Linked DNA regions of Homo sapiens. The protein of the gene in region 1 interacts with the protein of each later gene in a biochemical or structural test. Each region holds a gene or a part of one and is shown in the gene's direction. Other genes may lie near its edges.

Region 1 (3,520 bases):
GTCTCCCTGTTTGGCAAATGGGCTAGCTTGTGGATCTGGAGTGTTGTGTCAATGGAGCCTAAGGCTGTTTGGAGAACCTAGAAAGAAAATTCATCAGCTTCTCAGTCTTGGTAACAAATAAATAGAAGGCAAGAGAGAATGGGAGGGAAATGACGTCAAAAGTAGAAAGAAATTTATGGATAAGGAAACCGAGAAATTACGATTACAGAAGGATCGATTCCATTGTTGGCATTATTGTCTTCATCAAGGCCGTGCATCCTGCAGGGTGAAAACAGAAGAAATGAAGTGCTAAGGAATATAAAAGAGTGGAAATGACATTTGTTGGACACTTTTATAGTCTGTAAATGGATAACTTGTGCCTCTGTTTGACACTTTGGCTTAAAACTGAATGGCTTATTTATTTAATCGGTGGAGACTGTGCAAATCCATGTATTAGAATAACTTACAATGCTGGTTGCTGAGCCTGAAAAGGTGTGAATTTACTTTTTAGTTTTCAAAGTTACGGCCAGGTGGGGTGACTCACTTCTGTAATCCCAGCACTTTGGGAGGCCAAGATGGGAGGATCACTTGAGCCTAGGAGTTTGAGTTCAGCCTAGGCAACATAGTGAGACCCCCATCTCTACAAAAATTACAAAAAAATTAGCTATGTGTGATGGCGCATGCCTGCAGTCCCCAGGACTACAGGGAGGCTGAGGTGGGAGGATTGATTGAGCCTGGGAGGTTGAGGCTGCAGTGAGCCATGATTGTGCCACTGCACTCCAACCTGGACAATGGAGCACAACTGTCTCTAAAAAAAAAAGAAAAAGTTTTGAAGTTATATGATGTGGCATTCAACCTTCTATCTGGGTTGTAAGGTTCCCAGGCAAGACATCAGCTATTAATTAAACACACTATTTTGACTGGGGGCAGAAATGCTCCTGTCTTGCATGATCTATCAATTTATTGATGGTTCAGGGACCTTAACTTACTGATGGACTTTTGCTTTATTGTTACTTTAGGAAAGTGTTAAGTATAAGGTGATAGTAATAGCAACTCGAGCCTCGCTCTGGTCTAAGTGCTTTGTGTGTATGAACTTACTTAAGTCTCACAACTCTTATGGGATATGTGCTATCCTGGCCCCTCTTTCATAGGTTGGATTGAGAGGCTTGCCAAAGGTCCCATGACTAGTACAGAGGGCACCTGGGATCTAAGCTCAGGGAGTCTTGTTTCCAGCTCAATCTCTTATCTTCTAGGTTAGCTGGATGGGGGTAATGTTGATGGGGAGCTTCAGATAATTTGAGGATTTTGGAGTCTGAACTGTCTGGGTAACTGTGGTTGTATGGAACTGGCCTTGGCATACCACTATCTATATTTGTCCCCTCTCTTTCCTCCCAATTCCCATGCTGCCTTTTCCATGAAGGTGTCTGCTTAAATTATCTCCCATCCCTCCCCAGTATGAAGACCACCTGCTTGCCCATGTTTGGCTACAAACACGTGCTGACGCTAACTGACCAGGTGACCCGCTTCAATGAGGAAGTGAAGAAGCAGAGTGTGTCACGGAACCGAGATGCCCCAGAGGGTGGCTTTGATGCCATCATGCAGGCTACAGTCTGTGATGTGAGTTTGGAGGACTTGGAGTGCCAGGTGTGGCTGGCATAGATCAAAATGGGAAAGGAAGTGACTGAACTCTGGGGATTTCTGGTGTAAAATGAGATGAGAACTAAGCAGGGCTTCCTGCAGTTATGAGTAGTAAGTTGCTCCTGATATTCAGCCTTGGCTTAGATCCACTCCCTGGCCTGAGCTGACATTTCTTTGAACCTCAGTGGTCTCAGATGTTCCCAGGGGAGAGCATCTTCCCATCTTCAGAGTTACTTCAGAGTTAAGGCTGAGTTAACTTAACCTCAGCAAAGTAGGCAGATGTTCAGATGAGATTTCTTCTAGCCCAGATCAGCTCTGTGGATGCACGTCAGTTTCTAGATGAGCAATGTGACTGTCATTAGAAGAGTTAAGTTTGGAGTTTAAGAAGATCTCATTCAGCTGCTTGAACTAATCAGCTATGAGACTGTTTTCTGAAGAGAATGAAACTCCTGAACTGGAAAGCTTCAGCTTCGGTTCCAAGGACTGGGACTGAGACCCTTGTTTTGAAGAAAAATAAGCTGTCCAGCCCTTTAGCCAGGGAGCACCTTGGGTCTCTGTTCTCTACCAGTGACATGGCTGAATTTGTTTTGTCTCCTCTGCCTTTGTTTTTTGTTTTCTTTTAACAGGAAAAGATTGGCTGGAGGAATGATGCATCCCACTTGCTGGTGTTTACCACTGATGCCAAGACTCATATAGCATTGGACGGAAGGCTGGCAGGCATTGTCCAGCCTAATGACGGGCAGTGTCATGTTGGTAGTGACAATCATTACTCTGCCTCCACTACCATGGTGAGATCTCTGGCACCACCTATGGTTTCTATTCATGATTGTGAGGGTTGCCCTAATCTAGGCAGAGTCTGTGTGAATATGAAAATGGCAGCCCCTCCTTCTGGGCAGGGTGCAGGGCTCGGTTCCAGCTTGCCCCTATCCCTTACCAACTGGACACCGTCATCCAGCATACAACCTATATAACCATTAGAGATGTCCCTGATTGTGGTGTTATCACTGCCTTCACTGTCACCAGCATAGCAGCAGCATCATGGGATCCAGAATGGACCCAAAGGATTTTTACAACCCAGCTGGAAAGCAGGTCTTCCTCTCCACTCTGATTAGCCCTTTCTTGGAATACCATACTAACTTGTGGTTATTGGAAGAAGACAGAGGAAAAAAAAGAGAAAGATTGGCCAGGCATATGATGGCTCATGCCTGTAATCTCAGCACTTTGGGAGGCTGAGGTGGGAGGATCACGTGAGTCCAGGAGTTTGAAACCAGCTTGGGAAATATAGTGAGACCCTGCCTCTACAAGAAAATGCAAAAATTCGTTGAGTGTTGTGGTTTGTGCCTATGGTCCCAGCTACTTGTGGGGCTGAGGCAGAAAGATCTCTTGAGCCCAGTAGTCTGAGGCTGCAGTGAGCTGTGATCTTGCCACTACACTCCAGCCTGAGTGACAGAGCAAGAACCACCCCTGCTTTTTTTTTTTTTTTTTTTTTTTTTTTTTTTTGATACAGAGTCTTGCTTTGTTGCCCAGCTGGAGTGCAGTAGTGCAATCTTGGCTCACAAGCTTCACCACCTCAGTCTCCTGAATAGCTGGGACCACAGGCATGCACTACCATGCCCAGCTAATTTTTGAAAACAGGGTCTTTCTATGTTGCCCAGGCTGGTCTCAAACTCCTTGGCTTAAGCAATCTGCCCTCTTAAGCCTCCCAAAGTGCTGGGATTACAGGTGTGAGCCATTGCTCCTAGTGGAGACCCCTTCTCTTAGAAAGAGAGAGAGAGAGAGAGAGAGAGAGAGAGAGAGAAAGAGGGGAAAGAACATAAAAGGCATGGTGAACAGGTCCTACGAGGAAAGATTAAAGGGCCAGAGTCATTTAGCTTGAAAGAAAGAAGGCTAAAGGATGATTTAG
Region 2 (3,520 bases), on another chromosome or scaffold:
AACTGGGATTACAGGCACGTGCCACCACGCCCAGCTAATTTTTGTATTTTTAGTAGAGACAGGGTTTCACCATGTTGGCCAGGATGATCTCGGTCTCCTGAACTCGTGATCCACCCACCTTGGCCTCCCAAAGTGCTGGGATTACAGACGTGAGCCACCGTGCCCGACCAGAGTCTTAAGGTAGTAGCAGTATTCTTTTTTTGGCTGGGGGCAGGTGGGGGCAATGTATTTGGGCTTGTGCCCTGAATCGTGGACTCCACAACTTCTTGATTTTGAGAAAGCCAGTCAAAACTGCACTGAAATACAGATGCTAAATTTAGGATTTATGTTAGTATATCTTCAAGGATATTATAAGAAAAAATGTCTGCAATTTGTTGATGACTGGGTATTTATGTATATTGCCTTTAATCCCTTCAACAACCTTGCACAGTGGGTATGATTCTCTCCATTTTATTCATTGTTATTATTTTTATTTACTTTTTGTTTTTGAAATGGAATCTTGCTCTGTTGCCCAGGCTGGAGTGCAATGGCATGATCTTGGCTCACTGCAACCTCTGCCTCCTGGGTTCAAGTGATTCTCCTGCCTCAGCCTCCAGAGTAGCTGGGATTACAGGCACCTGCCACCATGCCTGGCTAATTTTTGTATTTTTAGTAGAAATAGAGGTTTCACCATGTTGGCCAGGCTGGTCTCAAGCTCCTGACCTCAGGTGATCCTCCCACCTTGGCTTCCCAAAGTGCTGGGATTACAGGCATGAGCCACCACTCCTGGCCTACTTATTTTTTTGAGACAGGTTCTTACTCTGTCACCCAGGTTGGAGTGCAGTGGTGATCACAGCTCAGCTCACTGCAACCTCCACCTCCCTGGCTCAGGTGATCCTCCCACCTCGGCCTCCTGAGTAGCTGGGACCACAAGTGCATGCCACACCCAGCTAATTTTTGTATTTTTTAGCAGAGATGGGGTTTTTCCATGTTGCCTACGCTGGCCTCAAACTCCGGAGGTCAAGGTATTTGCCCACCTGGGCCTCTCAAAGTGCAGGGATTATGGGCATGAGCCATTGTGTCTAGCCTGTTTATTATTTTTTAAATTAATTTATTTTCTTTTTAGAGACAGGGTCTCCATCACCCAGGCTAGAGTGCAGTAGTGTGATCATGGCTCACTGCAGTCTTGACCTCCTGGGGTCAAGAGATTCTCCTGCTAAGGCAGCTGCCTCCCGAGCAGCTGGGACCACAGCCATGCGCCACCATACCTGACCAATTCTTTTATTTTTTTGTAGAGATGGGGGTCTCACTTTTTTGCCCAGGCAGGTTGTGAACTCCTGGGCTCAAGCAGTCCTCTCACCTTGGCTTCACAAAGTGTTGGTATTACAGACATGAGCCACCGCACCTGGCAGGTTAACTCTGTACAGATGAGGATGCTGAGGCACATAAAGGTTAAATCTTTTGCGTAAGACAGTACCATTGATAGTGGAGTTGGGATTCAAACCCCCATTTGTCCATCTCTGCTATACCGTGCTATAGTCAGAATGATGAAATATATGAAAGGATATATGTATTTTTAATAAACTGTGTTTATTGAAGGGTATCTTTTTATAAATTACAAAAGTTAAAATGTTTATTTTTCTGTTTTAAAACAATTAGAAGTTTTTGGAATTGTGTAGAAAAAGTGTGATCTCTTCCCAAAGATAAGTAGAGATGTTAAGGGTATACACTCATGGAGCCACCTATATACAGCCTTCATTAATGTTACTGATTTAAAAGTGTTGTTCTTTTAAGCACTGTATGCTTCAAACAAATGAGTTGCCCAGAGTTAAGTCTTAAATGGAAAAGGTTTAGCTGCAGGGCATTTCCCAGTTATGATTCATGGAGATTCAAGTTTTCTTTTTGTAAGCATTATAGCGTATGGGAGAAGTTGATCTAATCGCAATTTAAAAAAGCAAAATATGACTGCTATATATATGATAATCAGATGCTATCTAGTCCAAGTATGGAATAGTTATAAGTGTGGATTAAATGGGAAGCATTTGTTTAGTAATTATGATGGGATATAATGGAGAAAATATAATATTCCATGGAAGATTTTTCCTGTTTTTAAAAAATTCTTCATTAGAAGTAGAATATGCTGCTTTTTGAAGCTTATCAGTCATGAGGTCTGATCGGTGCCTGTTGTAGGTACTCAAATATCTCTTGGATGGAGAGCGTAGTTGTTCTTGCCAATTAAGAGGAAATTAAGGGTTAAAGCAAAGCAGCAGCTGCTATCAGAATCCCTTAACTTTGGAATGCAGTAAGACATATTGCTTGTCAGAAACAGCTTTCCAAACCAACAGATGGAATTACAGGTTTTTAAAGCACTTCCATTGCTCCTAGATGCCTGCTAAGTTAGGACAGTTGCAGATAAAGTGCTTACAGCCAAGTGGAGCAGATCCCTTACACTGTCGAAGAAAGTAATTCAGTGGTAGCAAGTTATTTTTAGCTCTGGCCCCGCAGTGCCATTGTACTTGCCTGCAAGACCATCAGAAAATCATTTGGCCTTCTCTATTTTGCTCATTCCTTAACAGATGCTTTGATACTTCGAATTGTTAGATAAATTTAAAATGTACATTTTTATGACTTTTGTGTTTTTTGTTCAGTTTAAAAGAACCATGTAGATTATAGGCTTTCAATAAATACTTGTTAGTTGGACATAAATATGTAAAATTAAGGTTTTAAAGCACAGATATTTAAGATACAGTCTTAGAGCAAGAGAGGCTGTCCTCCTTTTACTGATAATAAGACAAATTAAGTCATTTGCCCAAGATCACATAGTTACTGGTGACAGATCTCAGCATAATCAGTATATATACTGTAATGTACAGTGGTAAATTAAAAAAAAATTAAAAGCCATTTTAGAATGTAGAACTCGGAAAATCTTAAAATTCTTAAATTTGACCTTTGCTTTTAGGAGAAAATGTGCACCTTCTACCATTCATTCCCAGCACTTTGCTTGAATGTGCATGGGTGTAAAAATTATACTTCAACCATAATTTATAGCAGTATTCTAAATTAAAAATTATAAAATGCTAAAAATAGCTTTTGAGCTAATTTTCATGATATTGAACTTTCAGAATATAAAAGAACAAACTTATCCTATTGATCTGCATTTTAGGTATATCCAGAGTCTTCAGGAGCTTCTTGATTTTAAGGACAAAAGTGCTGAGGATGCTAAAGCTATTTATGAGTAAGTTCACTATTTTGACCCTATTCTTAAACCTATTATTAGGTCACTTGGGGGAAATTGGTTAACTTTTAGGTTTCTACTACTTTAGAACATGTGATATATGTGACTGTAGCAGCCCATACAGGCAGGACAAATAACAATCAGCAAATTTGACTAGGCATAAGAAATGCTTCGTGTTCCTCTTTAACAAAAGACAAAGTTCAGGTGTGATGATCAGTGGAAATGTAGGTGTGGCCTCAGTGCCAGTTGGACTGTTCACCTGGAGGGTGCATGCTCCTTCTAATGGACAACCACCTTCAGCCCCAG
Region 3 (3,520 bases), on another chromosome or scaffold:
TACTCATTTTTGACTGCAGCTGTGTAGCTATCTTATTTTCTAGGTAGTACATGAATTCATTATTGTTCTAGATGTAATAACATGCCTGAATTTAAAAGTTGAATTACTTAACATATGTCTTGAGGTTTTCAAAGAATCTATTAAAACAGTGTTTCTCAAGTTGAATGATTCTTAATCCCCTTTTACATAAAAATTGTTTTAGATCCTTAGTATTAACTTACAATTTTTAAATATTGACAAAAATGTTATAAACAACTTGTCCTTATGGTTTTTATAAAATTATGAATTCAATAAATTATAAATTAAATGAAAGCCAAATTGCAACACCAATACAGGACGGATGATCTTATTTGGTTAAAGCTAAAACCACCTTATCAAATTTCTATTGATTTCAACATGTATTCTATCTGATGGCACAGATTTCCTAGTTCTTTTCTATATTTCAAACGCTATGAAACTTTCAAATGGCGCATGATAATTTAGCAAGAATGCTGTATTTCATATGAAATCAATTCCTTTTCTTTTACATTAGTTTTACCCATTGGACATGTACTATCTGGTACTAATGCTTTTGTAGTAACAAAGAAATATTTATGTGGTAGTATTTATTCTCAAGGGTTGCACAGGTCATACAGAGTACTTCTCTAAAAATTTTTTAGATTTTCCCAAAATTGGAAAAAAAATTATGGAGTTTTAAGGATAAGCCTCTATTTCCAGATTTTGTTGAAACCAAGTGTGAGACACAATGTATTGGGATGATTGAGTGATGGTGACACTCAATGTTAAACCGTGGTGTTTTTGCTTTTGCTGTTTCTAATATTTTCTTAATGTCTTTTTAAATTCTTTACTGCTTTCATGGTGGGTAGCGCCAGAGATGGTTGGTATATTATTTTTATAATAATTTTAAACAACTTACAAATTTTTAAAGCTGAAACCTTAAAATTTGCATGCCTTATTTAATAAAAATTCAAACAACAGCTTCATATGGGTATATCTGATAATTAGTTATGTTTAGAGAGGTTTTATAAACCACATTTTAAGATTATTTTTCAGTGACTTAGTCACTATTGCATTGTTCACTTCATTGTTTCCTTTCTTTTCTTTTTTTTTTTGAGGCAGAGTCTCACTCTATCGCCCTACCCAAGCTGGAGTGCAGTGGCATGATCTTGGCTCACTGCAACCTCCACCGCCCGGGCTCAAGCAATCTTCCCTCCTCAGCTTCCTGAGTAGCTGAGACTACAAGTGTGCACTACCACGCGTGGCTAATTTTTGTATTTTTTGTTAAAAACAGGGTTTCATCATGTTGTCCAGACTGGGCTTGAACTGCTGGGCTCAAGCGATCTACCCACTTAGACCTCCCAAAGTGCTTGGACCACAGGCATGAGCCACCATACTTGGCCATGATTGTTTCTTTTAGTCCAATATTTACTTGCAAGGTCACTTTAACAAAAGTAAAATAATATTTTCTTCATCTAAAGTCTATGATGGCTTTTATTATTAATCGTGCTAGCCTAATGAATCTAATGCAGACATTTAGCTATCTTTGCATATCATATAAAAACTTAATATAGTACAATGGGTTGTGAACACCATATTGAGTTAATAAGCCTAGTGAGACATTTAGTTTTCATCTTTCATTTACAGAGTATTGTGACTAAGCTATTTTTAAGAGAATCGAATTATTAAGTTTGAAATCACAGAAACATCTCATGCATGTAAGCATTTATGCAGAAATGTTAGACCATATTTCAGTATAAGCAGTTAGAAAATTAAACATCTATTTGAAATCAATAATGTAGCTATTTGATTTGACATAATTTAAACTGTCCAGTACATGTCACCAACAGGAAAATAAGTGGAATAGTATTGATAGCCCACACTGTAACATGTGAGCTATAATAATTTAATACATTAAAAAACAAGCATGGCAAGTTCATGAATGATGAAAGAATCATGTATGAGTGGTGTTAAGTCAGCTAGCTAGTACTCTGGGAGAAGATCAATGTACTGCTGAAACTTACAGCAAATGCCGAGATAAATTTCAGAAGTAATCAACATTTTAAAATATTTAAAATATTATTGAATATTCATCAGACTTTTGAATTGAAAAGAAAATTTTATAAGGAAAAGAAAAATACGGACATATAGTATCCAATTTTTTAAAATTTACTGTCTAAAAATATATAAATACATTACATATACATAATTAAAGCAATTAGACAAATGGCTAGGAAACTAAAGAATCAACAGATAAATAAAAAAGCACTAGTTCACAAAAGAAGACCACAAGTGGCTTACACATATGTAGACATGTTCTGTCTAATCAAAGTAAACATATAAATCAAATAAAGAACTGTAATGCTATTTTAATCTAGCAGATTATTTTTTAAACTAATAATCAATCAATACAACTGAAAGTGTGATAAAACAAGCACTGTAAATTGTTGGCAGTCCAGAGTTAGTTCAGAGGTAACTATGGCCTAGCAGTCTCTTTAAAGGGTAGCTTGTTATTAATACTTTTATTTCTGTTTGATATCAAAACTTTAAAGCAATCTATTCTGATGAAAAAATAAGTATGAATGTGTTCAATCTCTGCGAATAAAAATACCTAGTCAACATTATTCATAATTTTAAAATGCTGAACGATTTTTTTTCAAATCAACGTAAAATGCATTTTTACGATGGAAACAATCATAAAAATTAATAGCATTTTATATAGTCATAATAAATTAGTTTTGTGGGAATTTAAAATAATCAGGGTCTGCAAAGATGAAAAGAGGAAGATAGAAAACTATATGTAATATATTACTTACATAAGAAAATTATATGGCATAAATATATATTCATATTATCATTAAAATCATTTTTAAAAATGTATAGATAGAAAAAAAGACATACCTCAAAATGTAGTGATTTTTCTTTCCTTGATATGCTTTTCTATTTCAAAATAAGAAAATTCATCAAAATCTTTCGTATAAAAAGCATATGGTGAATAATACTTTAATTATTTAATCATTCTTTTGTGTGACGTTAGCTTATGATAATTCCCATCACTACATAAGTAAATAAAGTCTCATTTTTATTAAGAAGTTTGAAGCTCAACAGGTGTGGGAAATTTTATCTGAGGAAGAAAGAAAATCAAGAAACCTTATAATATGTAAGGATCCTTAAAAAGTCAATATGGAGATAGATATTATTGTAAGTCATATACTAACACTTTATTATTAAAATAGTGATTGACCTCTGTTTTACTTTGGCTGCTATTCTGCTTTTCCAATATTGATAACACATTGACAAATAGTATTTTCAGGGTAATTGAAGTGATACTGGTTTACTAGCAGAATGAACTGATAAAATTTAAAAGTACCGTATGGTATCAAACATTTCCACATGTAACTCTCTTTCTATCTGTCATTATCTATCAATGTATCATCTATTTACCATTTGTAATATACCAGAAGATGACATAATATACAGATCTTCAGATATCCAAATAAAATAATTTTAAAGAAAAGTTTAC
Region 4 (3,520 bases), on another chromosome or scaffold:
CCTAAAAATCTTGGTGTTTCTGACAGAGTTCTAGTGTGGGATTTCTGGTTTTCATGGGCATTTCTTTTAGGGTATGGCATATTGTCTCATTAATACTTAATTTTAGACCTTAAATGTTACTTGCAGATTTTTACTTGCTAATCGTATCAACAAAATATCAAAGTGAAAGTAATCACTTCCTTATTCATTGTTTCTTTCAGATTCTGAAGCTTCAAGTCCTTTCACACCAGTGGCCGATGAGGACAGCGTAGTTTTCAGTAAACTGACTTACTTAGGCTGTGCCTCGGTAAATGCTCCCAGGAGTGAAGTGGAAGCCTTAAGGATGATGTCCATCTTAAGAAGCCAGTGTCAGATTTCACTAGATGTTACCCTTTCAGTGCCGAATGTGTCTGAAGGAATTGTGAGGTGAGACTGGTTTGTTGAAATCTTTCGATATTTACATCAGATCTCTGACCTGTTGCTTCAGAAAGAAGCAATAGTGAATAAAATACATATTAATAGTTATTTTACTTGTGTAACGTTTCATTTACCTGGCACTCATGTCTCCCAAGGACTGTGACCTTTGTGAAAAATGGTTACTTATTTGTAATAGTTTTTCGTACTCTTCCCGATCATGTGTAGTACATTAGGCATTTAATGTTTTGGGGATAAATGAAATATATTGACATGAGTCAGCCTAAAAGATTATATTTTCCATGTTCCTTTGATGAAAATACAAGCTTGACACATTATTTCAAAATGGAGTTTCATGTTGAGTTTGAAAGTTACAAAAATTTATTATTAAATATTAACTATACCAGCACACCCCTTAATTTTTATGATGAGAAAACTGGCTAGGTGCAGTGGTTCATGCCTGTAATCCCAGCATTTTGGGAGGCTGAGACGGGTTGATCACTTAAGTTCAGGGGTTCGAGACCAGCCTGGGCAGCCTGGGCAACATGGTGAAACCCTGTCTGTACAAAACATACAAAAATTAGCCACGCATGGTCATACACACCTATAGTCCCAGCTACTCAGGAGGCTGAAATGGGAGGATCACCTGAGCCTGGGAGTTCAAGGCTTCAGTGAGCTGTGATCATGCCACTTCACTCCAGACTGAGTGACAAAGTGAGACCCTGTCTCAACAAAGCAAAATGAAAAAAAAAGATGAGAAAACTGAGGCACAGAGAAGCCTCTAGCTGTTTATACTAATAGAACAAATAACAATTGCAGATAGCTAATCAGATGTCTGTATCAACCAGCTAAATATACTGTTGCTCAATAAGTCAGATGAATGCAGGTAAAATAAATTTTTTTTCCCTATTACCAAAGATACATGCTTATTTAAAAAAATTGCCACATAAAAATAGCCTTAATTCTACTCTACCACTAATAAATACAGTTAACATCTTGGCTTATTAAGATCTTCTTTGCATATTGGTATATGTATATGTCTAGGTATATGTAAATATACCTGCATATATATACATACATAATTTACAACTGTTAGAATCAACTTTTTTTTTTAACAGCAATGGACCTGTACATACCATCTTGTACTTAGTTTTATATCGTAAACCTCTTTTCATGCCAGTAAATATTATTAAAAATTTTAATTTATGATGGCATATGAATGGGTTATAAATAAATAACCCATCTCTTATATTAGACATTTTAAGGCTTTTATCTTTCAGAGAAAAAAGCATGAATGATGATAGCTAGTTTTAATTATATGGGAATATCAGTGTTTTATAAATAGGTATCTTTGAGCTCAATCTTTTTAGACTTCTGTTGATTTCCTTAGGATAAATTCCTAGAAGTAAACTTATTGAGTTTGTCTATTTTTATTGCTTCTAATAACATTGCCAACTAGCCATCTAGAAATATTGATCTAGTTTATACTTTTATCAGCAGTATATAGAATATCCATTTCTCAGTATCCTCAGAAGTATTTTGGACTTTCATGGTGACAGAGTAATAGCTGTGTGTTGATTGTAGTAAAATAATCTGTATATGTAATTTTTCCCCTTAAGTATTTAAATAACTATTTTGCAAAGACTCACAAATTCTATTTATTAATGATAAACTATTAATAAAATGTGTTTAGCACTCATTTCTATATGTTTCTTAGTCAATACTCATTCCTCTAACTGAAGTTAGACTTTAATATATTTTTAATTCTATAAAAGAAGTTAGAAAGCTAGTCGGTTTTACCCCACATTTTTAGAGTTTTCATAAAAGTGCTTTCAAACCTGTGTTAGATCCTCTTCCTAGGTATTTCCGTGATGAGCAAGGCCTTCTAGGCTTTCCCATTAATGGCTCTACCCACATAGTGTTGAAATTGCATAGTTTCTTTTTAGACCTTCCATAGTTGTGCCTTACTGCCCTGATCAGAGTCTGGAATGTTGTAGGTATCACATAAATATTTGTTGAATAAGTAGATTTTTGAATGAATGCTATCCCTTTGATTTTTTACTGAATGGCATCCTTTTGCTTTTATTCATGATTTTTTTTTTTTTGAGGAGTTAACATTTTGTATAATTTCTGTCCTTATTTTCCATGAATCAAAAAAAAACTTGTTTCAGTCTGAGAAAAAGCATCAGTTTTTTGTTTTTTATTTTTTCATAACAGATTAGGTCATTTTTAAAGGAGATAATTAGAAGCACAGCTTTGCCCAGGTGTGGTGGCTTATGCCTGTAATCCCAGCACTTTGGGAGGCCTAGGTGGGCGGATCACCTGAGGTCGGAAGATTGAGACCATTCTGGCTAACCTGCCCTGTCTCTACTAAAAATACAAAAAATTAGCCGGGCATGGTGGCACATCCCTGTAATCCCAGCTACTTGGGAGGCTGAGGCAGGAGAATCACTTGAACCCAGGAGGCGGAGGTTGCGGTGAGCTGAGATTGCGCCATTGCACTCCAGCCTGGGCAACAAGAGCGAAACTTGTCTCAAAAAAAAAAAAAAAAAAGCACAGCTTCAATGATGTATTTTGGTAGTCTAATTTACGTATTAATCGTCTTTATTTTGTAGCAGACTGTATAAGAAATGTGCTTATTGATATTGTTTATACCTTTCTGTTTGCCTCCCTAAAACATGATACTATATGGTTTTTAGTACTATGGAATTACGTAATCAATAGCTTCCGGAATTCACATATGAGTTACTTATTAAAATTTAAGGTTAATATCAGCATACCAAATATATGATCTTCTTACTAGAAAGAATGAGTCTCACATCTTAATCTAAACGTAGTGCAGATTGTTCATAATTCCTGTAATCTCTCTGTATCTTTTTCTCTGAACAGACTCTTAGATCCTCAGACAAACACTGAAATAGCAAACTACCCTATCTACAAAATCCTCTTCTGTGTCAGAGGGCATGATGGAACTCCTGAGAGTGACTGTTTTGCTTTCACTGAAAGTCATTACAATGCAGAGCTCTTCAGAATACACGTCTTCCGGTGTGAAATACAAGAAGCTGTAAGTCCTCAAGAGAAAACTCTCTGCAAATGAAACTTCACCAGTGCCCTCACTAGGTTGAAA
Region 5 (3,520 bases), on another chromosome or scaffold:
TTGTTAGACTTCCTTGTTTTTGATGATGTTTGAGGAGTACTGGTCAGGTATTTTGTAGAATACATTTGCATTGGAATTCATCTAATGTTTTTTCTCATGATTAGACTGTGATTATAGGTTTTTGGTAGAAAGATCACAGAGGTAACGTGCCATTTTCATCTCATATCAAGGGTATATACTATCAGTATGATTTGTCACTGTGATACTCATCTTTATCACCTGGCTGAGATAGTGTTTATCAGATTTTTCCACTTTTCTCCACCTTTTTCATGCTGTGCTCTTAGAAGGAAGGAACTGTGTATAGCCTATACTTAAGGAGTAGAGAGTTATGCTTCCCCCTTTGATGGTAGAAATCTATATAAATTATTTGGATATTTTTCTCCGTGGGAGATTTGTCTCTTCTCCCCCATGTATTTATTTACTCAATCATATTTATTTTGTTCTGGACTCATGGATATATATATATTATATAAATATAAAATCTATCTATCTATCTAAATATTTTGGGTTATAATACAATGCTACTTTGTTACAGCTTGACTCCAGTGCCTCTTTGACATACTACCATCAATGTGAATTTTGTTTTTTTGGAAGCATTTCCTTACTTTCTGGTATTATGAGATGCTCTAGGTTCATCTGTATACATCTTGCCACAGTCCTAGAATCAGTCATTTCTCCAAGGAATCTGGATCATTTTGTTGGGGAATGGTGTTAGAAACCAAGATCTGGGTGCTAGGTGTGCTTGTTGCTACTGTGGTATCATTGCTTCTAGGTTCTCTCATGTGACAAAGCAAGAAATACATGTGTGTATATGAACATATCTGTACATATTTTTATGTAACAGTTTGTATCCATGTTTAACTATGAATTTACATTTTATCTGTAATGCTAATTCATTACCACAGGTATCATTCTAGCCTTCTCCCTTTGTTTATATGTAAACTTACTCCAACAGTGAGAAGAAACCTGGTTTGCACCATCTGCCATACATTTGCTTAATCATTCATTTCTATCATAGATGTATAGCAGCATTGGAATTGTTAACCTGTGCTCCCATGGGAAACAACTTTAGCATCAAGAGTACAGTGTTTATGTACTATTCCTTTTGCTTTTAGTCTCACAGCTTCTACTCATTTCTAGAGTTAGTCAGCTAAGCACCTTTCCTCCTATCCTTTTCAGTGAGATTGTAGCACACATTTATAATACAGTTAGATTTCTTTGTTACAATCTGCATTCCACCTTGGGATTCCTTGACCTTCTAAATGATTTGCTTACGTTTGCATACATTAAAGTTTACTCTTTGTCCTGTGAAGTTCTTTGGGTTTTGACAAATACTTAATTTGATGTAGCTATCCTTATAGGATCATAGTATCATACCGAATAATTTCAACACATTACAAATCCCCTGGGCTTCACTCATAACCTCTGTGAGCCCCTCTCCCAGAAAACCACGTATCTTTTTACTGTCTCTTTACTTTTGCCTTTTCCAGATGTTGTATAATTGGAATCATACAGCCTTGCCAGACTGGCTTCTTTCATTTAGCAATACACATTTAAGGTTCATCCATGTCTTCCTGAGGTTTAATAGCTCATTTCTTTCTATCATTATCAGATATATCATGGTTTGTTTATTCACCTATTGAAGGATATTTTGGTTGCTTCCAGTTTTTGGCAAGTATGAACGAAGCTGCTATGAATATTCACATGCAGGTTTTTGGGTAGACATAAGTTCTTATATCCGTTGGATAAATATCTAGAAGTGCGATTGCTGGATCCTGTGGTAAGATTATGGTTAGCTTTGTAAGAAATTGCCAAACTGTTTTCCGAAGTGGCTGTACTATTACATTCTCACCAGCAATGAATGTGAGTTCTTATTGCCCCACATCTTTGCTAGCATTTGATTTTGTCAGCTTTTTTGGATTTTACCCATTCTAGTAGGTGTGTAGTAATATGTCATTGTTACTTTAATTTACTATTTCCTAATGACATATGATGTTAACATCTTTTCACATACCCCTTTTCATCTGTACATCTTCTGTGGTGTGATGGCTGTTCAGATCATTTGCCCACTTTTTAATGGGGTTGTTTTCTTATTGTTGATTTTAAGAGTTCTTTATACATTTTGTATACAGGCACTTTATCAGATATGTGTTTTGCAAATATTTTCTCCCAGTTTGGTTTGTCTTTTTATTTTCCTAACAGTGTCTTTGTCAGAACAGATGTCTTTAATTTTAATAAGGCCAACTTACCAATTTCATGGATAGGCTTTTGTGTTATATTTGAAAACTCATTGCCAAGGCTACATAGATTTTATCCTGTGTTTTTCCTAGAAGTTTTATAGTTTTGCATTTTACATTTAGGTATGTGATCCATTTAGAGTTAATTTTTATGAAAGGTATAAGGTCTGTGTCTAGATTAATTTTTTTTTTGCATATGGATTCCTAGTTGTACCAGCACAAGTAAATGTGATTTTTAAATTAATAGATTATAAATTGCTTAGAATTGAAAATGTTTTTATTAAAATTTTTATTACATGTTCTGCAAAATTACTTACTGTAAACAGTTGAGAAATGACTTAGAAACCAATATATAATACAGCATGTACTGTGTGCTGAGATTTATTTCTAGACATTGTACATAATTCATTTTCCTCTTTTTTTTTTTTTTTTTTTTACTAACTCAGAGATGCTTCTTTGTGAAAATGGAATTGTTAGTATAGAGTAACATCTGTCAGTTCTTTTAGATCTTATCATAGGGAATAATAGTTTGATTTTTCACAAAAAGGATCTGGAATAAAGGATTTGCAGGGTGTATGTTGAGAAGAGGCAGTTGATGTATGCACCAGCTAGAAATCTGAGACTTAACTATGTGGTCTTGAATCTTTTCCCATGCTATTCTTCCTGCTACAAGTGACTTTTTTCAAGTACAGTTGACCCTTCAATAGTGCAGCGGTTAGACTCACTGACCCCTGCACAGTCAGAAATTTTTGTATAATTTTTGACTTCCCAAAAACTTAACTAGTAACCCTTCTGTTGACTGGAAGCCTTACTGATAACACAGTCTGTTAACACACATTTTGTATATTATATGTATATTACATTGTATTCTTACAATAAACTACAGAAAAGAAAATTTTATTAGGAAAACCATAAGGGAGAGAAAATCCAGTACTGTATTGTACTTATTGATATTGTAAGTTTTTGTTTGCTTACCAGATGACTCCTCTTTCTGAAAAGGTGGGGGAATGGAGGGGCAGGGCTGGGAACTGCAGCTGCAGACCTCAATCTATGGTACATACCAAGCAATTCAACTTTATCTCTCATAATGTCATGACTTTTCTCTGTTTCTTGGGAGCATTTCTGGCATCTCTAGTGGCACGTTTTCATTCAAGGTTTATGGTATTGTACCAAACAGGATGAAAAATACAAGAGAACACCAAGAAATCATTTTTTACTGTGATACACAATTTACCGGAGAGATGAACTGCTCACGCAGAGATGATTAACATCACACAGTGGAC

Evidence for each region.
Region 2: of the proteins of ITGB3 (region 1) and PDK1, one has a biochemical effect on the other in vitro, tested with the Homo sapiens proteins (one study listed by BioGRID).
Region 3: the proteins of ITGB3 (region 1) and GULP1 form a complex in vitro, tested with the Homo sapiens proteins (one study listed by IntAct).
Region 4: the proteins of ITGB3 (region 1) and RABGAP1 form a complex in vitro, tested with the Homo sapiens proteins (one study listed by IntAct).
Region 5: the proteins of ITGB3 (region 1) and EPS8 form a complex in vitro, tested with the Homo sapiens proteins (one study listed by IntAct).

What each region holds. Positions count from the first base shown.
Region 1 is NC_000017.11:47,284,827-47,288,346, forward strand, and holds part of ITGB3 (integrin beta-3 precursor), read left to right. Parts: intron 1-1,433; coding exon 1,434-1,596; intron 1,597-2,243; coding exon 2,244-2,405; intron 2,406-3,520. UniProt on the Homo sapiens protein: Integrin alpha-V/beta-3 (ITGAV:ITGB3) is a receptor for cytotactin, fibronectin, laminin, matrix metalloproteinase-2, osteopontin, osteomodulin, prothrombin, thrombospondin, vitronectin and von Willebrand factor.
Region 2 is NC_000002.12:172,559,078-172,562,597, forward strand, and holds part of PDK1 ([Pyruvate dehydrogenase (acetyl-transferring)] kinase isozyme 1, mitochondrial isoform 2 precursor), read left to right. Parts: intron 1-3,142; coding exon 3,143-3,214; intron 3,215-3,520. UniProt on the Homo sapiens protein: Kinase that plays a key role in regulation of glucose and fatty acid metabolism and homeostasis via phosphorylation of the pyruvate dehydrogenase subunits PDHA1 and PDHA2.
Region 3 is NC_000002.12:188,588,874-188,592,393, forward strand, and holds part of GULP1 (PTB domain-containing engulfment adapter protein 1), read left to right. Parts: exon of another isoform or gene 1-866; coding exon of another isoform or gene 867-877; intron 878-3,520. UniProt on the Homo sapiens protein: May function as an adapter protein. Required for efficient phagocytosis of apoptotic cells. Modulates cellular glycosphingolipid and cholesterol transport. May play a role in the internalization and endosomal trafficking of various LRP1 ligands, such as PSAP.
Region 4 is NC_000009.12:122,986,015-122,989,534, forward strand, and holds part of RABGAP1 (rab GTPase-activating protein 1), read left to right. Parts: intron 1-200; coding exon 201-405; intron 406-3,282; coding exon 3,283-3,457; intron 3,458-3,520. UniProt on the Homo sapiens protein: May act as a GTPase-activating protein of RAB6A. May play a role in microtubule nucleation by centrosome. May participate in a RAB6A-mediated pathway involved in the metaphase-anaphase transition.
Region 5 is NC_000012.12:15,782,869-15,786,388, reverse strand, and holds part of EPS8 (epidermal growth factor receptor kinase substrate 8), read left to right. Parts: intron 1-3,520. UniProt on the Homo sapiens protein: Signaling adapter that controls various cellular protrusions by regulating actin cytoskeleton dynamics and architecture. Depending on its association with other signal transducers, can regulate different processes.